Regions from separate parts of the Homo sapiens genome. Here all the other regions are linked to region 1. The links come from fine-mapping of genetic effects on plasma protein levels. A gene starts in region 1. Each other region holds a variant in brackets. All regions are shown on one strand. Distances are between the middles of the regions.

The links. PIP is the chance, under the fine-mapping model, that this variant and not a neighbour inherited with it causes the effect. The UK Biobank Pharma Proteomics Project read protein levels with antibody pairs (Olink). The fine-mapping took linkage between variants from a reference panel, not from the people measured, so its PIPs are less certain.
Region 2: its variant is fine-mapped to the plasma level of the CD109 protein (UK Biobank, PIP above 0.99).
Region 3: its variant is fine-mapped to the plasma level of the CD109 protein (UK Biobank, PIP above 0.99).
Region 4: its variant is fine-mapped to the plasma level of the CD109 protein (UK Biobank, PIP above 0.99).
Region 5: its variant is fine-mapped to the plasma level of the CD109 protein (UK Biobank, PIP above 0.99).
Region 6: its variant is fine-mapped to the plasma level of the CD109 protein (UK Biobank, PIP above 0.99).
Region 7: its variant is fine-mapped to the plasma level of the CD109 protein (UK Biobank, PIP above 0.99).

The regions. Positions count from the first base shown.
Region 1 is chr6:73,693,088-73,697,556 of GRCh38, reverse strand. It overlaps CD109 (CD109 molecule), which reads right to left and starts at 1,354. Exons shown (of 33, transcript NM_133493.5): 1 at 1,268-1,354; 2 at 1-157. The coding sequence starts at 1,341. It overlaps CD109-AS1 (CD109 antisense RNA 1), which reads left to right and starts at 1,426. Exons shown (of 2, transcript NR_110889.1): 1 at 1,426-1,725; 2 at 1,982-3,654. RefSeq lists a silencer at 1,185-1,234 and enhancers at 797-1,511, 1,465-1,724.
Region 2 is chr6:73,199,052-73,203,520 of GRCh38, reverse strand. No RefSeq gene overlaps it. Among named protein-coding and RNA genes, the nearest start is that of KHDC1L, 24 kb to the left of the region's middle. The variant C/T (reference allele first, on the strand shown) is at 2,384.
Region 3 is chr6:73,250,373-73,254,841 of GRCh38, reverse strand. The region is part of intron 1 of KHDC1 (KH domain containing 1); the gene reads left to right. The region is part of intron 2 of LOC122539213 (KHDC1-KHDC1L); the gene reads left to right. Among named protein-coding and RNA genes, the nearest start is that of KHDC1, 11 kb to the left of the region's middle. The variant C/A (reference allele first, on the strand shown) is at 1,883.
Region 4 is chr6:74,944,871-74,949,339 of GRCh38, reverse strand. No RefSeq gene overlaps it. Among named protein-coding and RNA genes, the nearest start is that of SNORD156, 180 kb to the left of the region's middle. The variant T/C (reference allele first, on the strand shown) is at 1,998.
Region 5 is chr6:74,338,878-74,343,346 of GRCh38, reverse strand. All of the region lies in intron 1 of LOC101928516 (a long non-coding RNA gene), which reads right to left. Among named protein-coding and RNA genes, the nearest start is that of CD109, 640 kb to the right of the region's middle. The variant T/C (reference allele first, on the strand shown) is at 2,471.
Region 6 is chr6:73,173,870-73,178,338 of GRCh38, reverse strand. The region is part of intron 11 of KCNQ5 (potassium voltage-gated channel subfamily Q member 5); the gene reads right to left. Among named protein-coding and RNA genes, the nearest start is that of KCNQ5-AS1, 33 kb to the right of the region's middle. The variant C/T (reference allele first, on the strand shown) is at 2,512.
Region 7 is chr6:73,216,992-73,221,460 of GRCh38, reverse strand. No RefSeq gene overlaps it. Among named protein-coding and RNA genes, the nearest start is that of KHDC1L, 6.3 kb to the left of the region's middle. The variant G/A (reference allele first, on the strand shown) is at 2,786.

The DNA.
Region 1 (4,469 bases):
TTCTGCTTCCAGGACAGAGACAGTGAGGTTTGATGCTGTCTTGAGCAGCTCCGCCTTCACAGTCACCTGTGAAGGGCAGTGTTCCAGAAGCTCCACCCCAATAGTCACATTTCCTCCGGGCCTGATGATCCCTGGGGCTGTCACCAGAAACCGAGGCCTAAAGAGTTCCCAACAAGGGAAAAACAAAGTTTCTTATCCTCACATCTCCTTTCTTTTGTGACCCTCAGATTTCCTAGTGCGATAGGCACTCCATACTGCGCCAATTGCAGTTGTTTCCGTTAACATTGCCCACTGCTCTATTTGGCAACTGAATTGAAATGCTACTGAAACAACAATAATTCCCATAAATCAATTTTAATGCAGTAATTCATGCATCACTACTAGAGGAAGGCCTGTGTTATTATTTCCATTTTATAAACCACGAACCGCACAGAAGGAACCATGATGTAAATGGCTTGCACCGGGGCATAATGGAGTTATTGGCAAAGCAAAAGTCTCTAAGCTTCTCCTTTACAGAGGACCTTATCCCAGCGTGATTATTTTCTTGTTGTTGTTGTTATTTTTTAACTAAGATTTTGCCTGTTTCTTATTCAAACCTTTATCCTTGAGTAGCTGCCCAACGAGGGTAAAAAATTATTTAACCAATACCATTGATTGAAATATACCATTTGAAAATAAACTACAACTGGTGAAAATTCCAGGTATAGCGAATCATAAAAGAAGTCACTAAAGCAGCACTTTCTCTGCTATAACTAGGGGTTAGGGCTCAACTACAGAAATCTTTAGGAATGAATGGGGCTTGCCATTATTGGGTGCTGTTGTTTTCTTCCTATAATGTCTGCCCCTGAACCCATACATCAGTCCCCTCCGCCACACTTTGGCAATGCTAAGGTTGAGACATCTTGGTTAGAAAAAATATATCATGTCTTTGAGAGAAGAATCGCAATCTGGGAGCAAAAAGTTGAGAAGCAAAAGGCAGAGGCAATGTGGACTAAAAATAAAATGACTCTCTTCAGAAAGTTGTTATGGCCGGGGAGACGCTTAAACAACTTCATGAGTGGAGAAAGTTAACTGTCCCATGGAGAGCCACGCTGAAGCTACATATGGTCAAACCTCCAGGCCAGTACCAGGCTGGGGACTGCAGCCGCGAGGGCATTTCCCACCCGCTGCTGCACAGCAGCCGCCACCTCCCCGAAGCCCTGGCCCAGAGCCGCAGAGCGGCCCAGGCCCGCGCGCCCGCGCGCCCCCCGCGCGCCCACGTTCCTACCCGGGAGCCACGGCCAGCGCGGCGGTGCACACGCAGAGGAGGTGGGCGGCGGTCAGGAGCGGTGGGCCCTGCATCTCGACGGCGTCTGCCTGGGCTACAGTCCGCTGCCGGGGAAGTTCGCGGGCACCGTGGGGTGTGGCTTGCCACCTCCTCCCTGATTTTTTTTCCCTCTTAATTCGAGTTTAGTAATCTGAAATGGGCGCGCCTAACAGCAGAGTGAGAGATCTAAATTGAGACAGGACTTGGAGGCTCCACCCCTCCCATCCCCATTACAATGGCGCTTCTCGCTGCTGTGGCAAACATCGCAAATCCAGGGGGTGAGAAAGCAGTTGCTAAACGCAGGCGGCCCCACCTGGCCCGGCGTCCCAGCTGGCCGCGGAGAACAGAGCGCGCCCACTTCCCCGGCCCACCGGGTTCCTCAGGCTGTTTACACTAGCGCTCTACCAACGATGCCCAGGGTGAGTAAACAGGCCCATCCTTGTGAGGAGAAATTCATAGCAACTATGTGAAGTGGAAAAAAGTCAATCATTGTCCTCCAGACTATGAGTCAGAATTTTAGAGAAACGGCACACACACACACGCACACACACACGCACGCACACGCGCGCAAAACCGGGGCGTATTTCCTGGGTAGTTATTTAATGTATATGAATGGAAACAGAAAAACTATTTTTCCTTAAAACAAAAAATGAGGTCTACTGCTTTCCTTTCCAGGAAAATGTTATGATTTATCACCTTAAAAAAAAAAAGAAGAAGAGAACTCGCACTGCAGACGTTAGGTGTTGCTACTTGGAACCCTGAAAAAAAATTACCTAAGAAGATGCCTTTATATTTTTGCTACAGAAAGAATTTGGTAGAACTGTAAAGCTTGGAGCAATCTCTGAACACAGTTAGGGTTGGGTTGGCTCTCCTGTCAGAATGAAGGCCAGTGGCCGGTGGTGCCCAGGAGTTATTGATGCCCAACGCTGTCTGGCTTCTTTGCAGCTCCTCTCTCCTGCTCTCTGGCACTGCCACCATCTTCAGATGACTCAGGTTTCACCATGACTACACCATAAAAGCAGGGAACTGCCAGAAACTGTTGGAAAACAGACACATTCAGTCCCTGACAACTTAAACTTTCTAATTCATGGAGCGGTTTTAGATGGTAGCATTCTAATATGGGGCAAAATGCAAACGGAAAAGAGGTCAGCAAAAAGATGTCTCATGACAAAGCTATGTGCTAAATAAGGAAAAGTGAGAAAGTAGCACCTAGACAAACTGTGGTTTGGGGAATCCAGAAACTTGCTTTCCTCCCTTTCCTGTTCCACCCTTTTTCTCCCTGCTGAACAGCTTGCAAAGGTCCTTATGTCCTTTCCTTCAGGCAGCCTATCTTTAGTGGCCAACTTCCTGTGCAGGCAGGACTTAGGAATGGTCAAAAGTGTCTGTGTGGATCCCTGGGTGCTGACCTGTTCCTGACACAGCTGTTACTACTGGTCTCCTCACCTCCGTTGTTCAGAGAGGAGGACCATGGTCAAGGGTGGGCCAAGCACCAAGGTCTAACTCAGTGCTTCTCACATGCCAATGTGTGTGAGAATCACATGAAAACAGACTCTGACTTGGCAGGTCTGGAACGAGGACTGGGATTCTGCTTTACTTTAGCAGACAGTAGGCCATGGAGACTCTACAAGTGGGGGCAATTTGGGGGCAATTTGATGAGCAAAGGCAATTAAGAACACAGAAAATTCTTCTCAATCTTTCACTTCATAAAGGTGGATTAATAAATTCAGGTTCATTCTAGAGGTAGGCAAACATAAGAGGGACTGCAAAAGATTAGATGATAATGTTGCCTCCCGAGAAGACTTACAGAAAGTCTTAGAACCACATTGTATAAATCTGTGTGGATTTTAAAGTGATGCCACCTTCCTGTTTATGCCCTCCTTCCCACAATACACACTTGTCGAAAGGCGTAGTCATGCAAAAATTTAGGCATATGGATTTGCATAGAGATGAGGCTATTACATGCCTGGCACAGAGTAGCTATTCAATAAAAATGTGTTAAAAGGATTAATGAAAAATGTTCATCTCAGAAGTGGGATTTTTTATTAAGAAAAACTGAAAATGAGGCCAGGCGTGGTGGTTCACACCTGTAATCCCAGTAATTTGGGAGACCGAGGCGGGTGGATCACCTAAGGTCACGAGTTCGAGACCAACCTGACCAACATTGTGAAACCCCATCTCTACTAAAAATACAAAATTAGCCAAGTGTGGATGGTGGCACATGCCTGTAATCCGAGCTACTCAGGAGACTGAGGCAAGAGAATTGCTTGAACCTGGGCGTTGGAGGTTGCAGTGAGCCGAGATCGCAGAATTGCTCTCCAGCCTGGGCAACAAGAGCAAAACTCCGTCTCAAAAAAAAAAAGAAAAGAAAAGAAAGAAAAGAAAAAAGAAACACTGAAAATGGGCCGGGCATGGTGGCTTATGCCTGTAATCCCAACATTTTGGGAGGCTGAGGAAGGCAAATCACTTGAGGGCAGGAGTTCAAGACCAGCCTGGCCAAAATGGTGAAACCCTGTCTCTACTAAAAATACAAAAATTAGCCCAGCATGGTGGCACATACCTGTAATAAAAGCTACTCAGGAGGCTGTGGCATGACAATCACTTGAACCCAGGAGGTGGAGGCTGCAGTGAGCCAAGATGGTGCCACTGCACTCCAGTCTGGGTGACAGAGCAAGACTCTGTCTCAAAAGAAAAACTGAAAATGGTCTGAACATGTAACAATAAGATATTGGGTTTGCTGTCATTTGGATGTTTGTCGCCCAAAGCTGATGCTGAAATTTGATCCCCAGTGTTGGAGGTAGAGCACAATGTGAGATGTTTGGGTTCTGTGGGTGGATCCTCATGAATAGATGAATGTCCTCCCTGGGGGTCGGGGGGTGAGTGAGTACTCAGTTCCCACAAGAATTGGTTGTTAAAAAGAGCCTGGCACCTCCTGCTTCTCTTGTTTCCTCTCTCACCATGGGATCTCTGCACACTAGCTCCCCTTCCCCTTCCACATGAGTGGAAGCAGCCTGAGGACCTCACCAGAAGCCAAGCAAATGCCAATGTCATGCTTCTTGAACAGCCTGCAGAATTGTAAGCCAAGTAAACTTTTTTTTTTAATAAATTACCCAGCCTTGGGTACTACCTTATAGCAACACAAAACAGACAAAAACAGGATTAAATA
Region 2 (4,469 bases), 490 kb after region 1:
ATTGATGTGGATTGAACTACTACTGCCAGGCCCAACAGACCAAACCACAGTTGAATCACTTATGCTAAACTTACACATCACCAAGCCAAAACTAAGTTGTTTGACCTTTCAAGAAATCAAGAGAGATAGAGACAATAACTAAATTTCCAAACAGGCCAGTTTTAGCCAACATGTTAAGGAAGTTCCCTTTGCTTTAACTTTTATGAGGAAATTAACTGAAACCAATCTGCATTTTGTTTACTGTTTCTGACCTTCTCAGCTCTTGTCAGTTTATAAAACCAGCCTCCTCTGCTTGACTCACTGTAACATTCATTCAATTGTATAGAAGGAGGTGTTGCACAATTTTAAAATTGCAAACAAAAACCAATTAAGATCTTCAAACTAAATTGTGTTGTAATTTTGTCTTTTGACAGCGGAGAGAAATCCCCATACAACGCCTTGGTGACCAGAGGTCACAGAAGTCTTCTGTGTCGATTGTTGAGTGAAAGTTTAGAAAAAATACTTTGGTTTTTTTCTCCATAACTTACAAACTGGAAAGGGGTGGCGTTCTAAAAGATGAGAAATTTTAAGAGAAAGAAAGAGTGATTGCAGTGTCCACTATTAAAGAAAAGCCAAAAGGGATGCTGGTTGAAGGTGTCCCTTGAATTAGCTTTTTTTTTTTTTTTTTCTTTTTTGAGACGGAGTCTCGCTGTCGCCCAGGCTGGAGTGCAGTGGCGCAATCTCGGCTCACTGCAGGCTTCGCCCCGCGGGGTTCAAGCCATTCTCCTGCCTCAGCCTCCCGCCTAGCTGGGACTACAGACGTCCGCCACCTCGCCCGGCTAATTTTTTGTATTTTTAGTAGAGACGGGGTTTCACCGTGTTAGCCAGGATGGTCTCGATCTTCTGACCTCGTGATCCACCCGCCTCCGCCTCCCAAAGTGCTGGGATTACAGGCGTGAGCCACCGTGCCCGGCCGAATTAGCTTCTAAGAGGTCACAGATGAACTTCTAGTGCAGCTTTTCTGTGCTGCTGGGTGGTCGTGAGTCTGACTGTCATGTGCTGGTTAGTGGGGTGGATGCTGTGGAAATGGAAGTACTTTATATAATTTATTTTATAAGATGCAGTTTGTTTCTAAAGTCAAGGTGGTGTATAGAGTAAAAAAGAGGAAGGGACGGCCGGGCGCGGTGGCTCACGCCTGTAATCCCAGCACTTTGGGAGGCCGAGGCGGGCGGATCAGGAGGTCAGGAGATCGAGACCATCCTAGCTAAGACAGTGAAACCCCGTCTCTACTAAAAATATAAAAAATTAGCCGGGCGTGGTGGCGGGCGCCTGTAGTCCCAGCTACTGGGGAGGCTGAGGCAGGAGAATGGCGTGAACCCGGGAGGCGGAGCTTGCAGTGAGCCGAGATCGCGCCACTGCACTCCAGCCTGGGCGGCAGAGCCAGGCTCCGTCTCAAAAAAAAAAAAAAAAAAAAAAAAAAAGAGGAAGAGAGGGTACTGGAAAGTTGTTGGTAACATGGGAGAGGCTTAAGCATACTTATGAGGGGAAAGGGTGAGATGCTGTAGATATGGGGAAGGGGAGGGGCAGCAGGTGACAACCAAGGGCTTGGGAACCCAGAGTGGAAGAGTTAGTTTACCCTAAAGGCAAGGAGTGGCCAGGCGTGGTGGCTCATGCCTGTAATCCCAGCACTTTGGGAGGCTGAGGTGGACGGATCACCTGAGGTCAGGAGTTCAAGACCAGCCTGACCAACATGGTAAAACCCCATCTCTATTAAAAATACAAAAATTAGGCCAGGCGTGGTGGCTAACGCCTGTAATCCCAACACTTTGGGAGGCGGGGGAGGGTGGATGACCTGAGGTCAGGAGTTCAAGACCCAGCCTGGCTAACATGGTGAAACCCCGTCTTTACTAAAAATGCAAAAATTAGGTGGGCATGGTGTTGCATGCCTGTAATCCCAGCTACTCCGGAGGCTGAGGCAGGAGAATTGCTTGAACCCAGGAGGTGGAGGTTGCAGTGAGCTGAGATTGCACCATTGTACTCCAGCCTGGGCAACAAGACCAAAACTCCATCTCAGAAAAATAAAACAACAACAACAACAACAAAAAATAAAACCCCAAAATTAGCCAGGCGTGGTAGCACACACCTGTTATCCCAGCTACTAGGGAGGCTGAGGCAGGAAAATTTCTTGAACCCGAGAGGTTGAGGTTGCAGTGAGCCGAGATCGTGCCACAGTACCCCAGCCTGTCTCAAAAAAAAAAAAAAAAAAAAAAAAAAAAAGAGAGCAAGGAGCTCCCATCCTGGAGTGGGGTTTGCCTCCTCTCCCACCAAGCAAGCAGAGGGATTTCTGGTAGCGGGGGTAGAACTGGGCATTGCAGCATTGGCCAGAGGGCTCAGATGAGGAGCG[C/T]CAGTGCCAGCACTTCTGAAAAGCATCTATGTGTTGGGGGTGTGCATGGTGTGATGTCCTCATGGCTTAAGTGAGGGTGAGTGGCACCCTGAGCTGCAGCAAGGGGAGGGTGTGAGTACCTAGTTACTTGGGGGGCACAGGAATGGATAGGGATTGGTGATACAGGAAGTGAGTCACAGCAATGCAGGCAAAGGAACAGAGAAGGAAGAAGCAGCAAGTAATGGAAAGAGATGAGTGTCACCAAAGATAAAAAAAGCTGCTGTGCACGGTGGCTCATGCCTGTAAATCTTAGCACTTTTAGAGACCAAGGCGAGTGGATCCTCTGAGCTCAGGAGTTTGACACCAGCCTGGGCAACATGGTGAAACCTCGTCTCTACTAAAACACAAAAAATTAGCCGGGCATGGTGGTGTACACCTGTAATCCCAGCTACTCAGGAAGCTGAGGCACGAGAATTGCTTGAACCTGGGAGGTAGAGGTTGCAGTGAACTGAGATTGCACCACTGCACTCCAGCCTGGGTGACAGAGAGAGAGACTGTGTCCAAAAACAATCAAACAAAACAAACAAACAAACAAAACCAAAAAAACCTAAAAAAGCATACAAGTGAAAAGTTCTAAAAGTAGGTGCAGGTGTTATGACAGTGTATGGAAACCCTAGAACCCTGATATCTATCCTAGAGCATACTGGACTTAAAATAGTCGCCAACATTGTGACAGAAAAGAAGTAAATCATATGACTAGGCAAAGAGTAATATATCATATCAATGTACCTTTGACCTTCCTATTTATTTGAACAGGAAAGTTTTGCCATTCACCAGTTTTTGTGGTGCTGTGATTTCCAGAGCAGTGCCTAAATCGATAGTTTGTGCATAATGTATCTGCTACGTTTCTGTTTTGAAATGTAGCAAAAACTTCAGTAATTTGGAATTAGGTGGGCTAGAGGGAGAAGTCTTGTCGCAGTTAATGAAAATTTGTTTTATTTAATTAATTAGTTTATTTATTTATTGAGATGGAGTCTCACTCTGTTGCCCAGGCTGGAGTGCAGTGGTGTGATCTCTGCAATCTTGGCTCACTGCAACCTCTGCCTCTCGGGTTCAAGCAATTCTCCTGTCTTAGCCTCCTGAGTAGCTGGGACTATAGGCGCACACCACCACGCCTGGCTGATTTTTGTACTTTTAGTAGAGGTGGGGTTTCACCATATTGGTCAGGCTAGTCTTGAATTCCTGACCTCAGGGGATCCAACTACCTCGGCCTCCCAAAGGGCTGGGATTACAGGCGTGAGCCACTGTGCTCAGCCTATTTTTATTTTAAAAACATTTTTAGATTTCTATTTTGTTTTCAAATCTCAGAGCTGTGTGAGATAAAATTTAAGTTTTTCAAAGAAACAATTTTTACTTGTACCAGATTCTCAAAGCAGTTGAATCTAGACTGATAGAAGTTGTCACTTGAAGATCTGGCAGCCCATTTTCATGAATGGTTAGGATAGAATAACTGTTGTAAGTATATTTTGCTTTAAATGGAAGGAGTGGGAAGTACTGCTAAAGTATTTCCAAAAATGTTTGGAAGCGGTTTAACATTTTTAAGTTGGTCAAGCAAGCATATACCATACACAATTTTCTTTTCCCTCATCTAGAAGTTGATAGAACAGGCACATAACTATTTGATCTCTTTAGAGCAGTAGTGGGAAGCCCTTTCTTCCCTCTAGGATAACACTCTGTAATTCTTCCTCCTGTCTAAAACATCTCTATCGGGCTTTGTTGCTTTGTATTCCAGAGTTTTAACATTCTGTATCTCTTTGAAAATAATTCCACTGGGATTAACCCTTGGCACTTAGTGCAAAATTGCTAGTGAAATAGAAAAAATGGGATTTTTTTTAGGGAAGAAGAAAAAAAGGTCCTTTTGGAGCAGAAGCCCTTCCCTGGTGAGGCAGAGCTGGGTAGGTGCTTAAAATGGTAGTTCTGAGTAGCCAGAGGCTGCAACATTTGGGCACCCACCTGGCCCCCATTTCTTAACATTGTTTAGCAAATCCCTTTATTATAGATAACACAAAACTCACATGCGTGGTATCTGAGTTACAATCAATTTCAA
Region 3 (4,469 bases), 440 kb after region 1:
TTTAGTAGAGACGGGGTTTCACTGTGTTAGCCAGGCTGGTCTCAATCTCCTGACCTCGTGATCCGCCCACCTCGGCCTCCCAAAGTGCCGGGATTACAGGCATGAGCCACCGCTCCTGGCCATAAGAAACCTGTTTCTAATTTATTGTGTATCCTTAGTTCTCAGATAAATACACATACACAATTTCTTTTCTTCTTTTTTCTGTATAGATAGCATCATACAATACACTCTTTAGCACCTTGCCATTTTTTAACTCAATATATCTTGTGGATGGTTGCATTTTAGAGCAGAAACACTTTCTTGTAATTTCTTATAGCTACGTAGTCTTTTATTTATTTATTTATTTATTTATTTATTTATTTATTTATTTATTTTTATTTTAAGACAGAGTCTCATTCTGTCGCCCAGGCTGGAGTGCAGTGGCCCAGTCTCAGCTCACTGCAACCTCTGCCTCCCTGGCTCAAGCGATTCTCCTGCCTCAGCCTCCCGAGGAGCAGGGATAACAGGCACGCACCACCACGCCTGGCTAATTTTTATATTTTTAGTAGAGATGGGGTTTCTCCATGTTGGCCAGGCTGGTCTTAAACTCCTGACATCAAGTGATCCCACCCGCCTCGGCCTCCCAAAGGGCTGGGATTACAGGCATGAGCCACTGTGCCCAGCTTGAATCTTTTTATATTTATTATCTGTGGATTTTGTTTCATTCTTACGAATGCCCTCCTTAGTCCATGCCTATAAAATATTTGCTAATGGTTTCCTGTGGTATGGTTTGAGTTTTCTTTTTTACATTTAAATGTTTGATGTTCCTAAGGTGTGATTCGATTTAGGTTGTTAGGTATAGTTCAAGTGAATTTTTATTATTTTTATTATTTTACATATATTTAAGTCTAATTTTACTGTTTTTTGTTGTTGTTATTGTTGTTGCTGTTGTTGTTGGAGACAGAGCCTCACTCTGCCACCCAAGCTGGAGTGCGGTGTATGATCATAGCTCACAGCAGCCTCAAATTCCTGGGCTCCAGTTATCTTCCCACCTCAGTCTCCTGAGCAGCTGGGACTACAGGCATGGACCACTATGCCTGGCCAATTTTTTAATTGTTTTTATTTTTGTGGAGACAAGGTCTCACCATCTTGCCCAGGCTGATCTCAAGCTCCTTGGCTCAAGTGATCCTCCCTCCTTGGCCTCCCAAAGTGCTGGGATTACAGGTGTGACTTAGTGCACCTGGCCTCAAATGGATTTTTAATAGGTTAACCTGTTTATTTTATTTTATTATTTATTTATTTTTTTTTTTGAGACGGACTCTCGCTCTTTCACCCAGGCTGGACTGCAGTGGTGCTATCTTGGCTCACTGCAAGCTCTGCCTCCTGGGTTCACACCATTCTCCTGCCTCAGCCTCCCGAGTAGCTGGTACTACAGGCGCCTGCCACCACACCTGGCTAATTTTTTGTGTTTTTAGTAGAGACGGGGTTTCACCATATTAGCCGGGATGGTTGATCTCCTGACCTTGTGATCCACCCCCCTCGGCCTCCCAAAGTGCTGGGATTACAGGCGTGAGCCACCGTACCCGGCAGGTTAACCTGTTTATTCCAATGATAATTCAATCCTTGATTGAGTAATCCGCCTTTTCCACAGTAATCTGAATTGTCCCCTTTATTAAATATTAAATTTCTATGCATATATGTGGGTGTATTTTTGGTTTTCTGTTCTATTTCACTGATTGGTCTTTTCATGCATTAGTAAAACTGCAGCCTTTTATTTATTGAAGTATTGTACTATTTAGTACATAGATAGGACTAAGCCTTTTTCATGCCTGTGTTTTGTAGAGCTTGTAGTTTAGGAATTATTTTAAAATTTTTACATAGTTTAAAAAACCAAAAGGATGAT[C/A]TTTTATGACATAAAATTATATAAAATTCAATATGTGTTTATAAATAAAGTTTTATTGGGACAGAGCAGTACCCATCATTTATGTATTGCCTCTGACCCCTTTTGCACTGCATTTGATGAGTGGATAATTTTTTTTTTTTTTTGAGGTAGAGTCTCACTCTGTTGCCCAGGCAGCAGTTCAGTGGCACGATCTCAGCTCACTGCAACCTTCGTTTACCAGACTCAAGCCATTCTCCAGCCTCAGCCTCCTGAGTAGCTGGGACTACAGGCGTGAGCCACCATGGTTAGCTAATTTTTTTTTTTTTATCTTTTGAAGAAATGGGGTTTTGCCATGTTGCCCAGGCTGGTTTCCAACTCCTGAGCTCAAAGTGATCCGCCTGCCTTGGCCTCCCAAAGTGCTGGGATTACAGATGTGAGCCATTGAACCCAGCCTGAGTGAGGCTAGTTTTGACACAGACTTCATGCCACAGAGTATAAAATATTTACTGTCCGGCCCTTTATAGAAAATGTTTGTCTGACAATTGCTCTAAATTACTAGAAGAGCTAATTTATTCTAAATACATTGTGATATCTATAAAAAAATTTTCAATGAAATTATTATTAGGATGTGATTTAGGGCCAGGCACAGTGGCTCACACCTGTAATCCCTCCAGTTTGGGAGGTCGACGAGGGCAGATTGCTTGAGCCCACAAGTTAGAGACCAGCCTGGGCAACATAGGGAGACCCCCATCTCTACAAAAAATATGAAAATTAGCTGGGTATGGTGGCTCAGGCCTGTAGTCCCTGCTGCTCAGGAAGCTGAGGCATGGGAATTGTTTGAGCCTGGGAGGTAGAGGTTGCAGTGAGCCCTGATTGCACCACTGCACTCCAGCTTGGGTGACAGGGTGAGACCGTGTTTCAGAAAAAAAAAAAAAAAAAAGATATGATTTAGGCCAAGGCCTGGGCCCTGTGGCTCACGCCTATAACCCCTCTACTCTGGGAGGCTGATATGGGCCAATTGCTTGACCCCAGGAGTTCAAGATCAGCCTGGGCTACTCAGGAGGCTGAAATGGGAGGATCGAATGAGCCCGGGAGGCTGAGGGTGCAGTTAGCTGTGATCTTGCTACTGTACTCCAGCATGGAGGACAAAACGACACCCTGTCTCATTAAAAAAAAAAAAAGAAAAGAAAAGAAAAGGAAAAAAAAGAATTTTTTAAAAAGGATATGATTTAATTTAAATTATTTTTGTCATCAAACTGTGTACTTCCTTGAGTTCAAAATGGCTGAATCTATGGTTTTAGTACAGTTGCAATTCATTGAAATGTGAGTTTCCTTATGTCCAAAATAGAAGACATTGAAACATTTCTTTTTATGTTTATATTTTCCAGTATACAGACAGTGATACTTAAAAATTAAGATGGGACTGAAACTTTTTATGCATTAGATGTCAATATTTTTCTGGTACATGTTTAGGTTAGAGGGCCAGTGATTGGCTTTCTATAGTATTTTTGTTCGCTATAGGTTCCCTGATTCAACATTAAGTCTAGTGTCCTTGAGAATAATTTTTTGACTTTTATTACATATATTGGACCTATTCCCAGTGTATTTTCTCAGGTTTGATAGAAATATCACTGCAGACTTTCTCATACTAGTTGTATTAATAGGATTTCTGTCCAGTGAGATACACAGTAAGAGAATTCCAACTGAAGGACTTTGATTTTTAATGTATAAATATGACTTTTTCTCTCATTATTTATTTATTTTTCGCTACATGATAAAGTGGTAAGGATTTTTTGGTATTCAATAAGGCCAGAACTATTGCATATACATTTTGATTATAAATTATTTGGTGCTAGGCTGGGCACAGTGGCTCAGCCTATAATCCCAGAACTTTGGGAGGCCGAGGCGGGCAGATCGCTTGAGGTCAGGAGTTTGACGATAGCAGCCTGGCCAACATAGCAAAACCTGTCTCTACTAAAAATACAAAAATTAGCATACCTGTAATCCCAGCTACTCGGGAGGCTGAGGCAGGAGAATTCCTTGAACCCGGGAGGTGGAGGTTGCAGTGAGCCAAGATTGCACCACTGCACTGCAGCCTGGGCAACAGAGCGAGACTCGATTTCAAAAAAAAATTATTTGATGCTTAATATTCTGTAACTTGGAAAGTGCTTATGAATGAAAATAATCAAGATAAACTTTGTGCTTTTCACTCTTCAGGTTTTATGTGATAAAACATTGCTACCTACAGTTCATTGTCCCTCCTTGGAGAGTGGAACACTGCTGAGCGCAATCAATCAAAATGAGAGTAGTATGTAAAAGGGACCAGAATCATGTAGCATGATTTGAACAGCAAATAACAGGAAACACTGGTCCAGTTGGATGCTAATAAAGCACTGTATTATTGCCAATAGCAGGCATTCCAGGCATATTATGCCAAGGGCTCAAATTCAGTTTCTTGGTTTGCCTCCCTTTCCACCTTGTGTTGGCTTCCTCTTCAGGTTGGTAGCAAAATACTTGTAGCTATTTCCAAAATCATATCCTGCTATAAACACTGTGAGAAGGTAAGAATAGACAAGTTCTTTTTTGTGTCTCTCTTCAGAAATGAGAC
Region 4 (4,469 bases), 1.3 Mb before region 1:
AGAATCTTGTGAAAGATTACAAGGGGAGTTTTATCCAAGCTGAAGGATATGTTAAAAAGGTCTTGCTTTTGGTTTGGAACAGGGGAAAAATACTATAAGGCAAACAACTATAAAATAGTATGCTGGTATATTACAATATTTCTTATGTTGCTCCCTTTCCCTGGTGATGCAGATGTGGGCTTACTGGTATAGACTGGTTGGGTCTCTTTATGACTGCCGAGGGCCTATGTGTTATACAGCTGGGGGCTCCATTCCCCCCAGAGTCAAGCTGTGCAGAGTCAGCATGGTTGCACACAGGCCTGGGTTCAGTGGCAAGCGGTATATCCTGACAAACACGGTAGGTTGCAGAGTTAGTCCTGCATCTTGCCTCCTCTATCCACCACTCCCTCATCCCCCCACCCCTCTCAACATGTGAGTCTTGCTTATTTCCCTATATTTGCTTTTCTTGACTTCTATGATCTGTTACTTATGTGACTCCGTTGTTCTGATTTTCTTATTTTGAGTTTCTCTTTGAAGGATAAGAGATGCTGGCAATTTCCTTTGTCTATATGGCAATGTCTTTGTCCCTTTGTGTCTGAGCATCACAAGATATATAAGATATCCATACATTAAGATGGAAAATATTTCTGGATTCACTCCTATTTGTAAACATTTGGGTCTGGGAAGAATGAGGAAAGGAAATGCTAATACTACATTTCAAGCTTATAAACATTTACAAAAATACATGCATCAGATTGGTTTTTTAGATACCATTTTGCAACATGTAGATGCAACTCATACCAAAATAACTTCTTTGACAGGTGTTTCTCTGAGTAGGCATGGTGTCACTTCCATTAAGGCAGAGGGCTTGATCATACATTTTTTGATGCGTCAATGTCTAAAGTACCCTTCCTTCCTCCTTCCTTCCTTCCTTCCATCCTTCCTTGCTTCCTTCCTTCCCTCCCTCCCTCCCTCCTTCCTCCCTTCTTCCTTCCTCCCTTATTTTCTCTGTCTCTCCCTCCCTCCCCCTCCCTCCCTTTCTTCCTCCCTCCCTCTCTTTCTCCCTTCCTCCCTTCCTTCCTTTTCCTCTCCTTCCTTCATCTCCTTCCTTCCTTTCTTTCTTTCCTTCTTTCTTTTTGAAACAGTTTTGCTCTGTCACCAGGCTGGAGTGCAGTGGTGTGATCTTGGCTCACTGCAACCTCTGCACACAGATTCAAGCGATTCTTCTGCCTCAGCCTCCAGAGTAGCCGGGATTACAGGTTCATGCCACCACGCCCGGCTAGTTTTTGTTTTATTAGTAGAGATGGGGTTTCACCATGTTGGCCAGGCTGATGTCGAACTCCTGACCTCAAATGATCCACCTGCCTCAACCTTCCAAAGTGCTGGGATTACAGGTGTTAGCCACGGCGCCCAGCCTAAAGCACCGTTTCTACAGTGAACAGCATACCAAACTTTTATTCCAGATTAAAATCCCAAACAAAAGACAAAGAAGATCTGTAAAATTCCTGCAGCAATTTTACAATGTTTTGTTTATTGGCTATATTTTAAATAAATAAATGAAATATTACCTCAAATGAAAGCATTCACATTGAATTCTAAACAAATAAAATGGAATGAGCAAAATTGAGTCAGGGAGCAAGAAGTATTTATTTGAAGCCATTTGATGTGCCTGATACTGTTTTAAGTGCCCAGGAATCCATGAAAAACATATAAAAATAATCCTTGCCAATAAGGAGTGTTAAATCTAGATCGAAAAACTGTGTAGAAAATAGCTAAAGAACAATGTAGGAAATAACAGATTCCTTTTGGTAGGTAGAAACTTAAGTACAATATGATCAGACTATAAGTTTATTTTAGGTTCAGTTAGGAAAGTGAAGCTGCAGTGGAACCAAGAGACATAAAATCAAAGAATCACATTCCTGCTTTCAAGACATATTTGAAGTCTTGCTCGTGATTGGAAAAATATACACTGATTCTAAATATGTTTAATATATTTTATTAAACCTATCTGGGTACCA[T/C]TGGTCATGTTGGGAGGGAGTAACTCCCAACTTAAGCCAAATGCTCAGTGGGGAAAACATCCTACCTTGGCAGGAGAACAAGAATAAAGGTGAAACAATAAGGCATTTTCCAGGTTCAACCAAGTTCTGTGTAAACCGAAGAAGCTAGGCTGAGAACAAGACAGAATTGTAAAAAGATCAAATGAAAAAGAATGTGTGCACTGGCTTGCCTCTGTGACTCATTTGAGAGTGAAATTGTTATCACATGAGCCATTTCCTGAAGTTTTAAAAAATATCGGGCCCTGTTCTGTTTCATTGATCTCTGATCTTTGACAAACCTGAGAAAAATAAGAAATGGGGAAAGGATTCCCTATTTAATAAATGGTGCTGGGAAAACTGGCTAGCCATATGTAGAAAGCTGAAACTGGATCCCTTCCTTACACCTTATACAAAAATTAATTCAAGATGGATTAAAGACTTAAACGTTAGACCTAAAACCATAAAAACCCTAGAAGAAAACGTAGGCATTACCATTCAGGACATAGGCATGGGCAAGGACTTCAGGTCTAAAACACCAAAAGCAATGGCAACAAAAGCCAAAATTGACAAATGGGATCTAATTCAACTAAAGAGCTTCTGCACAGCAAAAGAAACTACCATCAGAGTGAACAGGCAACCTACAAAATGGGAGAAAATTTTCGCAACCTACTCATCTGACAAAGGGCTAATATCCAGAATCTACAGTGAACTCAAACAAATTTACAAGAAACAAACAAACAACCCCATCAAAAAGTGGGCGAAGGACATGAACAGACACTTCTCAAAAGAAGACATTTATGCAGCCAAAAAACACATGAAAAAATGTTCATCACCACTGGCCATCAGAGAAATGGAAATCAAAACCACAGTGAGATACCATCTCACACCAGTTAGAATGGCAATCATTTAAAAGTCAGGAAACAACAGGTGCTGGAAAGGATGTGGAGAAATAGGAACACTTTGACACTGTTGGTGGGACTGTAAACGAGTTCAACCCTTGTGGAAGTCAGTGTGGCGATTCCTCAGGGATTTAGAACTAGAAATACCATTTGACCGAACCATCCCATTACTGGGTATATACCCAAAGGACTATAAATCATGCTGCTATAAAGATACATGCACACGTATGTTTATTGTGGCACTATTCACAATAGCAAAGACTTGGAACCAACCCAAATGTCCAACAATGATAGACTGGATTAAGAAAATGTGGCCCATATACACCATGGAATACTATGCAGCCATAAAAAAGGATGAGGTCATGTCCTTTGTAGGGACATGGATGAAATTGGAAATCTTCATTCTCAGTAAACTATCGCAAGAACAAAAAACCAAACACCGCATATTCTCACTCATAGGTGGGAATTGAACAGTGAGAACACATGGACACAGGAAGCGTAACATCACACTCTGGGGCCTGTTGTGGGGTGGGGGGAGGGGGGTGGGATAGCTTTAGGAGATATACCTAATGTAAATGACGAGTTAATGGGTGCAGCACACCAGCATGGCACATGCATACATATGTAACTAACCTGCACATTGTGCACATGTACCCTAAAACTTAAAGTATAATAATAATAATAATAATAATAATAAAAACAAACATCGGGCCCATCTTTGAACTCTGGTCTATCTACCTCCAAAGCCTGTGTTCCTGTGTCCTTCGTCTTCCAATGAAGAGCCCAGGAGGTGTTATTGGGAGAAAAATATCATGAAATTGCTTGAGGCGCTTCTAGGAGACAGAAGACATTGTGGAACTAGAAGTAGAGCAGAGAGATTCAAACTCCAGTGAATCGAAAATGGTCTAGGAGACAACTGGGGCTGGTGGTGACTGTGGAAAGTATACTCATGTCTCAGAGGACCCCTGGCTAATCAGCCTCTGCCAACTGTTGTCATAAGGAGATGTGGGTATGCTTAGTCCTCCAGTGTTTCAAGAGGAACCAGAAATCTAATTGTTCATGTAAAAATGTCTCTCATATTTTAAATGCTGGTACTTATTCATTTGTTTTTAAAAATAAAAATATTCTATAGGTCAAATAAAACATTTCTGACTGGTAATTGGTCTGTGAGTCAGGAGCTGGCAAAATCTGAGATGGTGTGCCGTGCTGCGCAAGCCTTATTACTTGAAGGTTTCTTGTTTTAGCTCTTCTTTTACTTGAGAAAGCCTGTAGGGAGACAAGGGTTATCTTCCTTTGTGCTTTTGACTTTCAGGAGAATGGAGCTATTCTGGAGAGAGAATGGCAGTGGATTAAAAGTTCTGAACCTGCCTGGGTCTCAATCACAGAAACCTGAAACAGCCATTGGACCCCCATTGCTAATCCCTGTGCAGTCTGTAGTCACACCTGGAGTGTCAGCTTTTATAGGTGGAGGTAAGCTTTATATACCTTCATTGTAACTAGTCCAGGTTGAGACAGAAAGTGAATACTCAAGAAACACCCTAATGTTCACAAAACC
Region 5 (4,469 bases), 650 kb before region 1:
AACGTCAGAAGACTTAAATGTCCCTGTCTGACATCTTGGAAGACAGTAGTGGTACTCCCAGCACACAGCTGGAGATCTGAGAACGGACAGACTGCCTCCTCAAGTGGGTCCCTGACCCCCGAGTAGCCTAACTGGGAGGCACCCCCAAGTAGGGGCAGACAGACACCTCACACAGCTGGGTACCCCTCTAAGACAAAACTTCCAGAGGAACGATCAGGCAGTAACATTTGCTATTCACCAATATTCACTGTTTTGCAGCTCCACTGCTGATACCCAGGCAAAGAGGGTCTGGAGTGGACCTCTGGCAAACTCCAACAGACCTGCAGCTGAGGGTCCTGACTGTTAGAAGGAAAACTAACAAACAGAAAGGACAACCATGCCAAAACCCCATCTGTACGTCACCATCATCAAAGACCAAAGGTAGATAAAACCACAAAGATGGGGAAAAAGCAGAGCAGAAAAACCGAAAATTCTAAAAATCAGAGAGCCTCTCTTCCTCCAAAGGAATGCAGCTGCATTCACCAGCAATGGAACAAAGCTGGATGGAGAATGACTTTAACAAGTTGAGAGAAGAAGGCTTCAGATGATCAAATTTCTCTGAGCTAAAGGATGAAGTTCGAACCTATGGCAAAGAAGTTAAAAACCTTGAAAAAAAGATTAGATGAATGGCTAACTAGAAGAACCAATGCAGAGAAGTCCTTAAAGGACCTGATGGAGCTGAAAACCAAGGCATGAGAACTACATAACGAATGCACAAGCTTCAGTAGCCAATTCAATCAACTGGAAGAGAGGGTATCAGTGATGGAAGATCAAATGAATGAAATGAAGCGAGAAGAGAAGTTTAGAGAAAAAAGAATAAAAAGAAATGAACAAAGCCTCCAAGAAATATGGGACTATGTGAAAAGACCAAATCTACGTCTGATTGGTGTACCTGAAAGTGACGGGGAGAATGGAACCAAGTTGGAAAACACTCTGCAGGATATTACCCAGGAGAAACTTCCCCAATCTAGCAAGGCAGGCCAATATCCAAATTCAGGAAATAAAGAGAACGCCACAAAGATACTCCTCGAGAAGAGCAACCCCAAGACACATAATTGTCAGATTCACCAAAGTTGAAATGAAGGAAAAAATGTTAAGGGCAGCCAGAGAGAAAGGTCAGGTTACCCACAAAGGGAAGCCCATCAGACTAACAGTGGATCTCTTGGCAGAAACTCTACAAGCCAGAAGAGAGTGGGGGCCAATATTCAACATTCTTCAAGAAAAGAATTTTCAACCCAGAATTTCATATCCAGTCAAACTAAACTTCATAACTGAAGGAGAAATAAAATACTTTACAGACAAGCAAATGCTGAGAGATTTTGTCACCACCAGGCCTGCCCTACAAGAGTTCCTGAAGGAAGCACTAAACATGGAAAGAAACAACCAGTACCAGCCACTGCAAAAACATGCCAAATTGTAAAGACCATCGAGGCTAGAAGGAACCTGCATCACCTAACGAGCAAACTAACCAGCTGACATCATAATGACAGGATCAAATTCACACATAACAATATAAACTTTAAATGTAAATGGGCTAAATGCTCCAATTAAAAGACACAAACTGGCAAGATGGATAAAGAGTCAAGACCCATCAGTATGCTGTATTCAGGAAACCCATTTCACATACAGACACACACATAGGATCAAAATAAAGAGATGGAGGAAGATCTACCAAGCAAATAGAAAACAAAAAAAGGGAGGGGTTGCAATCCTAGTCTCAGATAAAACAGGCTTTAAACCAACAAAGATCAAAAGAGACAAAGAAGGCCATTACATAATGGTAAAGGGATCAATTCAACAAGAAGAGCTAACTATCCTAAATGTATATGCACCCAATACAGGAGCACCCAGATTCATAAAACAAGCCCTTAGAGACCTAGAAAGAGACTTAGACTCCCACACAATAATAATGGGAGACTTTAACACCCCACTGTCAACATTAGACAGATCAACGAGACAGAAAGTTAACAAGGATATCCAGGAATTGAACTCAGCTCTGCACCAAGCTGACCTAATAGACATCTACAGAACTCCCCACACCAAATCAACAGAATATACATTCTCCTCAGCACCACACCACACTTATTCCAAAATTGACCACATAGTTGTAAGTAAAGCACTCCTCAGTAAATGTAAAAGAACAGAAATTATAACAAACTGTCTCTCAGACCACAGTGCAATCAAACTAGAACTCAGGATTAAGAAACTCACTCAAAACCACTCAACGACATGGAAACTGAACAAACTGCTCCTGAATGACTACTGGGTACATAACGAAATGAAGGCAGAAATAAAGATGTTCTTTGAAACCAATGAGAACAAAGACACAACATACCAGAATCTCTGGGGCACATTTAAAGCAGTGTGTAGAGGGAAATTTATAGCACTAAATGCCCACAAGAGAAAGCAGGAAAGAGATAAAATTGACACC[T/C]TAACATCACAATTAAAAGAACTAGAGAAGCAAGAGCAAACACTTTCAAAAGCTAGCAGAAGGCAAGAATTAACTAAGGTCAGAGCAGAACTGAAGGAGATAGAGACACAAAAATCCCTTCAAAAAATCAATGAATCCAGGAGCTGGTTTTTTGAAAAGATCAACAAAATTGATAGACTCCTAGCAAGACTCATAAAGAAGAAAAGAAAGAAGAATCAAATAGACGCAATAAAAAATGATAAAGGGGATATCACCACCAATCCCACGGAAATACAAACTACCATCAGAGTATACTATAAACACCTCTACGCAAATAAACTAGAAAATCTAGAAGAAATGGATAAATTCCTCAACATATACATGCTTTCAAGACTCAACCAGGAAGAAGTTGAATCTCTGAATAGACCAATAACAGGATCTGAAATTGAGGCAATAATTAATAGCTTACCAACCAAAAAAAGTCCAGGACCAGATGGATTCACAGCTGAATTCTACCAGAGGTACAAGGAGGAGCTGTTACCATTCCTTCTGAAACTATTCCAATCAATAGAAAAAGAGGGAATCCTCCCTAACTCATTTTATGAGGCCAGCATCATCCTGATAACAAAACCTGGCAGAGACACAACAAAAAAAGAACTTTAGACCAATATCCCTGATGAACGTCAATGCAAAAATCCTCAATAAAATACTGGCAAACAGAATCCAGCATCACATCAAAAAGCTTATCCACCATGATCAAGTGGGCTTCATCCCTGGGATGCAAGGCTGGTTCAGTATACACAAATCAATAAATGTAATCCAGCATATAAACAGAACCAAAGACAAAAACCACATGATTATCTCAATAGATGCAGAAAAGGCCTTGGACAAATTCAACAGCCCTTCATGCTAAAAACTCTCAATAAATTAGGTATTGATGGGATGTATCTCAAAATAATAAGAGTTGTTTATGACAAACCCACAGCCAATATCATACTGAATGGGCAAAAACTGGAAGCATTCCCTTTGAAAACTGGCACAAGACAGGGATGCCCTCTCTCACCACTCCTATTCAACACAGTGTTGGAACTTCTGGCCAGGGCAATCAGGCAGGAGAAGGAAAAAAAAGGCATTCAATTATGAAAAGAGGAAGTCAAATTGTCCCTGTTTGCAGATGACATGATTGTATATCTAGAAAACCCCATCATCTCAGCCCAAAATCTCCTTAAGCTGATAAGCAACTTCAGCAAAGTCTCAGGATACAAAATCAATGTGCAAAAATCACAAACATTCTTATACACCAATAACAGACAAACAGAGAGCCAAATCATGAGTGAACTCCTATTCACAACTGCTTCAGAGAATAAAATACCCAGGAATCCAACTTACAAGGGATGTGAAAGACCTCTTCAAGAAGAGCTACAAATAAAACTACACTGAGTTTTATTTTCATTGAGAACTACACTGCTCAATGAAATAAAAGAGGATACAAACAAATGGAAGAACATTCCATGCTCATGGGTAGGAAGAATCAATATCATGAAAATGGCCATACTGCCCAAGGTAATTTATAGATTCAATGCCATCCCCATCAAGCTACCAGTGACTTTCTTCACAGAACTGGAAAAAACTACTTTCAAGTTCATATGGAACCAAAAAAGAGCCCACATTGCCAAGTCAATCCTAAGCCAAAAGAACAAAGCTGGAGGCAACATGCTACCTGACTTCAAACTATACTACAAGGCTACAGTAACCAAAACAGCATGGTACTGGTACCAAAACAGACATATAGACCAATGGAACAGAACAGAGCCCTCAGAAATAATGTCACACATCTACAACTATCTGATCTTTGACAAACCTGACAAAAATAAGAAACGGGGAAAGGATTCCTTATTTAATAAATGGTGCTGGGAAAACTGGATAGCCATATGTAGAAAGCTGAAACTGGATCTGTTCCTTACACCTTACACAAAAATTAATTCAAGATGGATTAAAGACTTACATATTAGACCTAAAA
Region 6 (4,469 bases), 520 kb after region 1:
TGAAATTATAGGCATGAGCCACTGCACCTGGCCCCTCCTGTAGATTTTTGTTGGATTTTCTTTTAAGGGTATAAGAGTAGTAAAACCCAAGCAAGAACTTCCAGATCCGAAGAAGTCTTTCCTGCCAGGAATTTGTAAGCATTGATATGGCGACTAAATTTGGGGATTTTGTGTTCCTAGGAGTGTAAAATCTTGCATAAATTTTAAAGTGTAAAAAAAAAAACCAAATAATAAAGTGTGAAATGAATAAGTAAATAAATAAATTGACTATACATGTTGACTACTTTAAAATATTTTTAACATGGAATAGGAGATTCTATATTTTTAGCAAATAATAGAAAACTCAGTTTAAATTATAGCCAAAGAAAAGGTTTAATATCTCACATGCTACAAAGTAAGTGCATCTTCAGTGAAAACACTACTTTAACACAGCCTCGGAGCAAATGTAGCCACAACTAATTACCTTCAAAACAAAAACAAGCAAAAACAACATTCCAGGGAGTATATTAGCTGATTTTAAAGATATGTGCTAAATGATCCATAAAATGTTCTTTAGCAGCGTCCTTTACTGTAACATGTCATAGATTGGCTGTCAAGAATGTCTTAATAGTGACTTGCAAACAAAGACTCATCACCTCTGCTAAAATAGCAGAGATGCCATCAGCAAAATTAAGAACTGGTGATGATTAAACAGCTTGTAGATTTAACAAAACCCGCAATGGCAAACACGTGCCTCTTCTTTACTTGCGGAGTATTCTTGCCTGAAATATGAAGTGAGATGCAAGAAGGATTCACAGCTGAGATTGCATTTTAGGGATGGTCAAGATAATGGTCCCATACATGCCTTTCAGAACAGGAATAACACAGGGGCAAGAAAACTGAAAAACTTTATCACCCAACCCAGGGTAACAGTGAGGCCTGATTTGCATATCCACCTCAGGAACTCTGAAATGTCATTAGTGGTTCTTCAGTTCACTGATCAGATCTGAGCTATTTTAGAAGAGTTGATGAGCCTTTGCTAGTTACAAAGAAATTCTTGACACTTCATCTATGTTCATATTAGAGTGAGAGATTCTGGTAATTTAAAAAAGTGTTCTATTTACCATCTGGCTTCAAACCCTTTTCCTTCTACTGAATTTTTCTCCGAAGTCACAGATGACCTCCTTGTTGCCACTTTCAAAGGACCTTCTCACTCTTTATCTTCTTTGACCTCTTAGCAGCATTTAACAGCGTTGACATCTGCCTCCTACTTGAAACACTTTCTTCCTCTGGCTTCTCTTCTGTCACGCTCTCCTGGTTTTCCATCTGTCTGGCTGTTTGAATCTATCTCCTTCAGAGCATTCTTACTTTTGCAGCTCCTGTTTGTGAGCCTTAGACTTCTGTGTTGACCATCTTCTCTTTTTACTCCCTGGGGTGAGACTTCCACAAACCATTTATCTCTGTGCTGACAGCTACCAAATTTGTCCATATTCCAGACTGCTCTCCTGGGTGTCAGATCCAGAGATCCACCTACCTGCTGAGCCCTACTGTGACTGCTTGAACTCAACACTCACAATAATGCACCATCTCCCCTCAAGCCAGCCTGTCTCACCATCCTCCAGATATGCCATCCTTGATTCCTCCTGTTCTTTCCCTCCATCCTCTCCAATCAGTAAATATCCAAATCCTATCTGAAATCCATCCTTGACTATTCTCCATCATGACTGCCCAGCTCAGGCCCCAGCAGATCCAGGTATTGTAATAATAGTTCTCTCTTCCCAATACATTCCTTACATTGCAATCAGAGTCATCTTTCCAAGTTTTCAAATGAAGCACTGCGTTAGTCCATTCTTGCACTGCTGTAAAGAAATACCCGAGACTGAAAAATTTATAAATAAAAGAGGTTTCATTGGCTCATGGTTCTGCAGGCTGTGCAGGAAGCACGACTGGGGAGGCATCAGGGAACTTAAAATCATGGCGGACGGCAAAAGGGAAGCAGGCTTCTTATGTGGCCGGAGCAGCAGGAAGAAAGAGAGAAGCGGGAGGGAGGTGCTACACACTTTTAAACCACCAATCTCATGAGAACTCACTTGCTATTATGAGAACAGCAAGGGGGAAATCCGCCCCCATGATCCAATCACCTCCCACCAGGCTCCTCCTCTGACATTGGGGATTACAGTTTGACATGAGATTTGGGCAAGGACACAGATCCAAACCATATCATGCACTGATCTGATAAATTCATTTCTGTACTTAGAATCCCCCACATTCCTGCTCATTCTTATGGTTCCTGCTCTTCTCTTCAGCCTTACTCTCCTCATCCTTGTCCTCCACCTTCAACCATCACCCGTGCTTTCTAATGCCACCTTCACTTCTGCTTCTTTGCAATTGCAGTTCTCTCTGCCCAGCCTCTATATCCTCCTTAGTAACCTGGCTAGTTCCTACATATCTACCAGATTTCTTCTTTTCTTTCTTTTAGAGTCTTCCCAAATGCCACCTTCCCCAAAAGTGCCGATATAGGTTGGCCCAAAC[C/T]GTCCTGTCACTGTAGTAATATGCTGCTCTGCATTGTAATTGACTCTACTTTTCTGGTAGTTCCTCACAACTCTAAGCAGGGATCCATCTTTTTTGTTAACGTTTATCTCTGTGCCTGGTGCACAGTTGAAGCTCAAGACCTATTTTTCAAATGCATGCACTGAACGCTGGGAAGAGTTTTAAAGAGTCTATAGTCAGGCTTCGACAAGGGTCAGGGAGGGAGAGGGAAGAGCTAACTTCTCCCTTTCATTATCCTGTTGCTTCTTCAGAGGGTGCCTGGGAAGGCAGCAAGCTCACCCTGAGGAGAAAAGAGGTGAGATTTACTTGGAACATTGGCTCATGATTGCTCTTCATGGTTGAAAAAATTGCTCTTCTAGACCAGGCGCAGTGACTCATGTCTGTAATCCCAGCACTTAGGGAAGCCAAGGGGGGGGCAGATCACCTGAGGTCGAGAGTTCGAGACCAGCCTGACCAACATGGAGAAAACCTGTCTCTACTAAAAATACAAAATTAGCCAGTCATGGTCGTGCATGTCTGTAATCCCAGCTACTCAGGAGGCGGAGGCAGGAGAATCGCTTGAACCTGGGAGGTGGAGGTTGCAGTGAGCCAAGATCGCGCCGTTGCACTCCAGCCTGGGCAACAAGAGTGAAACTCTGTTTCAAAAAAAAAAAACTGCTCTTCCAACTCTGAGTAATTTCTCAGTCCAGGTAGTGGGAAGGTAACTTCAAGGGGAAAATGGCAAGTGCTTCCAGGTGAAGGAGATGCAAGCAGGTGAGGCTGTGTATGTTTTGGAAGATGGGAGCACCCTGATTCAAAGACAGAACAAAGTGCTCTTCTCATGTGACTCATCATGGAAGCGGGTGGAGCTCAGAAAGGAAAAGACTGACCCAGAGCAGAGGACGGGCAGTGGAGGCAGCATGCTGGAAGGCATAAGGAGTCCAGACAACTCAAGGGTAATAATATTAGCATTTACATAGTGCTGACCGTGTATACCGTTCTAAGTGCTTTGCAAATGTTTATTCATTTATTCATTCCTTACTACAACCCTATGAGGTCAATACCATTACCATCCCCAGTTTGCCAGTGAGGAAACAGAGGCTTGAAGAGGGAATATGAGTTGCTCAAGGATGTACAGAGGCTGTCCTGTTTCTTGGACTACCTCTCCCTAGCAGCTTCAGGGAGGGTGGGAGGAGGGGATAGAATTAGCCAATGGTACCAGTGTAAAGTCGTTTGTCAGCTTCAACTAAAGACTTCTTTGAGTTTTCACCCTGGACCTTATTCATGTATTCATTTGATTCTCTAAAAGGCTAGTCTGGCCTGGGAAAGAAAAGGTTTCATAAAGTGAAACATAGCAGGCATGACCATTATTGCACGGAGATAGTAAGAGACGGTAAGAGCAAGGCACAATCGATAGCGTCTTGGTCATTTCTCTTCAGAATAATGAATAATCTGCATCAGTGGTTTTGTTGATATTCACAAAAAGAACAGGTTTCACAGTATTTTGATTCAGTTCTTGACAACTGACATAAAACATGGTTGTATAAAACAAACGGACAGGAAAACAACTGTCACTGAGGATCTTATTAAGAGTGGCCTTAAAAGTGTGATCTGAGGACCAGAGCTGCTTCACCAACTCTTGGGTACCAATCCATGAAGAGATTAGTGCTTAGAAACTTTTAATAGCAATTTGACAGGATAATTTTATATCTGTTGAAATAGTTTTAAAAATTGAAAAAAAAAAAAAAGAGTAGCCTTGATCCTAGATGTAGTAATTCATTGAAAACAATACCGGTAAGAAGCAGGTAAGCTTTGCATTGCACTGTTTTAACAAAGCTCTTTCCCCAAATGGTGAATCCTTTACACAGTACTTATACGTTGCATTGGTGTGCATATCTGATAAATTACCTGCCTGTTCAGTACATAAATACAATTTCTGTTATATTTAAAAAAGTTATTAT
Region 7 (4,469 bases), 480 kb after region 1:
CCACAAATACTTCTTTCCAGTGTGTCCTTTGTTTTTTACATTGTTTTGGTGGAATTTGCCATGGAGATATTTTTAATATCTATGAGATGAATTCATGAATCTTTTTATATTTATTGTCTCTGGATTTTGTTTCATTCTTAGAAATGCCCTCCTCATTCCATGACTATAAAATATTTGGTAGTGGTTTCCTCTGGTATGGTTTGGGCTTGTTTTTTAACATTTAAATATTTGATGTTCCTGAGATGTGTTTTGATTTTGGTTGTTAGGTCTTGTTCAAACAGATTTTTAATATTTTATACATATATACTTTTACATCTATTCTTACTGTTTTATTTTTTGGAGACAGGGTCTCACTCTGTCACCCAGGCTGGAGTGCAGTGGTGTGATCATAGGTCACAGCAGCCTCAAACTTCTGGGCTCAAGTTATTTTCCCACCTCAGCCTCCCAAGTAGCTGGGACTACAGGTGCACGTAACTTCTCCTGTCTAATTTTTTAATTTATTTCATTTTTGTAGAGAAAAGATTTCACCATCTTGCCCAGGCTGATCTCAGTCTCCTGGGCTCAAGTGATCCTTGTGCCTCAGCCTCCCAAAGTGTTGGGATTACATGTGTGAACCACTGAGCCTGGTCTCAATTGGATTTTTAATAGGTGAATCTGTTTATCCCAATGATTACTCAATCATTGAATGAGTAATCCACCTTTTCCACACTAATCTGAATTGTCTCCTTTATCAAATATTAAATTTCTATGCATATATGTGGGTTTTTTTTGGTTTTCTATTCTATTTCATTAATTTGCCTTTCTGTTCATGCATCAATAAAACACAGCCTTGTATTTATTGAAGTTTTGTACTACTTGGTACATGGTAGGACTAATCCGTTTTTTTGTCTACTTTTTGTACAGCTTGTGGTTTAGGAATCATGGATCACATGGCTTACATGGTTTAAAAAATTAAAAGAAGGTTAATATTTGATTATGCATTAAATTATATAAAATTCAATGTGTGCTTATAAATAGAGATTTTTGAGATAGACCGGTACCTATCATTTATTTATGTATTGCTTCTGACCAGTTTTGCACTGCAATTGCTGAGTGAGTAGTTTTGACAGAGACTGCATGACATAAAACATAAAATATTTACTCTGTGGCCTTTATAGAAAAAGTTTGCCTGACAATTGCTCTAAATCACCAGGAAGAGCTAATTTACTTTGAATATGTTGTGATACTTGTAAAAACCTTTCCAACAAAATCATTACTTAAGGATATGATTTAGGCGGGGCTGGGTGGCTCACGCATGTAAGCCCAGGACTTTGGGAGGCTCTGGTGGGATGATTGCTTGACCTCAGGAGGTCAAGACAGACCAGCCAGGGCAACATGAGAAACCCCATCTCTACAAAAACTACAAAAAAAACTAGCTGAGCATGGTGGGGCATGACTGTAGTAGTCCCAGCTACTAAGGAGGCTGAGACGTGAGGATCGAATGAGCCTGAGAGGTTGAGGGTACAGTAAGCTGTGATGGTACCACTGCCCTCCAGCCTGGATGAGTGAAGCAGACCCTGTCTAAAAAAACAAAAAAATTTTAAAGGATATGATTTACTTTACGTTATTTTTGTCATTGAATTGTGTACTTTCTTGAGGGCAAAATAGCTGAATCTATGACTTTAGTATAGTTGCAATTCATTACAATGTGAGTTTTCTCATGACCAAAATAAGATGAAAAGACATTGAAACATTTCTCATTGCTTATGTTATTTTCCAGTGTACATTCAGTGGTACTTAAAAATTAAGATGGGACTGAAACTTTCTATGGGTTAGATGTAAATTTTTTTCTGATACATGTTTAGGTTAGCAGGCCAATGATTGGCTTTCTATATTATCGATAATATTTTTCTCCACCTAAAGTTTCCCTGATTCAACATTAAGTCTAATGTCCTTTAGAATAAATGTTTGACTTTTGTTACATTTATTGGACTTGTCCCAGTGTATTTCTTCAGGTTTGATAGAACTATCACTGAAGACTTTCTCATACTAGTTGTATTAATAGGATTTCTCTTCAGCAAGATACACAGTAAGAGAATTCCAAATGAAGGGCTTTGACATTTAATGTAGAAATAGAATTTTTCTTTTTTCTCTGTTTATTTATTTATATATTTTTGGCTACAAGATGAAGTGGTAAGGATTTTTCTATAGTATTAGTTTTTTGGTACTCAATAGGGCCTGAATTACTGCATATACATTTTGATTATAAATTCTTTGATGCTTAATATGACTTGGAAAGTGCTTATTAATGAAAATAATCAAGACATACTTTGTGCTTTTCACTCTTGAGGTTTTATGTGATAAAACACTTGTTACCTGCAGTTCATTCTCCCTCCTTGGAAAGGGGAACATTGCTGGGCTCAATCAATCAAAATGAGAGAAGTATGTAAAAGGGACCAGAATCATGTAGCATGCTTTGAACAGCAAATAATAGGAAACACTGGTCCAGTTGGATGCTAATAAAGCACTGTATTAGTGCCAATAGCAGACATTCCAGGCATATTATGCCAAGGGCTCCCTTCCACCTTGTGTTGGCTTCCTCTTCAGGTTGGTAGCAAAATACCTGTAGCCATTTCCAAAATCATATCCTGTCATAAACACCAGGAGAAAGAAAGAAGATATGAGTCCTTTTTTGTGTCTCTTTTCAGAAATGAGACAACCTCTGCTGGAAGCCTCCTTTAGGTTTTACTTCATTTCAAAACTGGTACATGTGCCATTTCCTAAAGCAATCACTGGCAAGGGGAAT[G/A]AGATTATCACGATTAGTCTAAACTAATCACCTGGAGTTAAATTGATGTTAGAAGTTAATGTCCATCAGCACTAAACAGGATTCTATTTTTCTATGTTTTGACATCATCTGCGAGTTGAAAAACTGCAACTGTGAGCCAGAGATTGACAGAGTGATAGAGCCACTGAATGAGAAATGGATTTATGACCTGGGAACTTGAGAAGCCATGCTAAATGAAACCCACACATTTGAAGCTGCCAAATTCTCATAGAATATCTATTTGTTCAAGTATAAGGAATCTTGAGAAACTCATGTAGGATGCAATAGAAACTATATTTCATTTGAGTGCGTATTTGTTAGCATAGTCCTGCTTTTTAAATGCTGTATTACCAGGCACAGTGGCTCACGCCTGTAATCTCAGCACTTTGAGAGGCTGTGGATCACTTGAGGCCAGGAGTTCGAGACCAGCGTAGACAACATGGTGGATCCAGTATCTACTAAAAATACAAAAGTTAGCTGGGTGTGGTGGTGCGTGCCTGTAGTCCCAGCTACTCAGGAGGCTGAGACAGGAGAATCACTTGAACCTGGGAGGTGCAGGTTGCAGTGAGCTGAGATCGCGCCACTGCACTCCAGCCTGGGCGACAGAATGAGACCCTGTCTCAAATAAATAAATAAATAAATAAATAAATAAATAAATAAATAAATACTCTACAATGAGGCTGGGTGCAGTGCCTCATACCTGTAATCCTGGTGCTTTGGGAGGCTGAGGCAGGAGGATCACTTGAGTACAGGAGTTTGAGACATCAGTGAGCTATGATTGCGTCACTACTCTGGCCTGGGCAATAGGTCAAGACCCTGTCTCTAAACTCAAAACAAAAGAAGAAAAACAAAACCAAAAAAACCCTCTGCCATCAGAAAATTATTGACACTTTTGGTTTCAGATGTGCCCATCTTGCTGTGAGTCTACATCCAGCATGGACAGGCAAAGCTAAGAGTATCAGGACTCCTCTCTTTGCTGTGTGTGTGCACCTTCCCATGAATATACGAAATAAAGATGATTACTTACTCCATGTGTTACACTTGCAAACCTTGCCTTTTTTATTACTCTAAAATATGAGGTAACCAAGATTGTGCATAACTAGTATTAGACAACTCACTGCACACCATCTCTGACTCTGCGTTTGTTGCCCTATGTGGTACTTAGGATGATATTATTTCCATAATTGTGCATGAATAATTTTTCCAGGGCCACCAGCTGGTCCTAGCTGGCTGCCTTCTCCTCCACCCCTGCTGACTATATAAGTGGTTTGTTATTTTTCAAAGATAATTTTTGTAAAACTTGTATTTTAGATTTTGGGACACATGTGAAGGTTTGTTACATAGGTAAGCTTGTGTCATGGGAGTTTGTTGTACAGATTATTTCATTACCCAGGTATTAAGCCCATTACCCACTATTTATCTTTCCTGCTTCTTTCCCTTTTCTTACCCTCCACCCTCAAGTAGAACTTAATGTCTGTTGTTTACTTCTTTGTATTCATGAGTTCTTATCATTTGGCTCCCACTGGTAAGTGAGAACATACAATATTTGGTTTTCTCTTCCTGTGTTAGTTTGCTAAGGATAATGGCCTTCAGCCCCATCCATGTTCCTGCAAAAGATATTATCTTGTTCTTTTTTATGGCTGCATAGTATTCCGTGGTGTATATG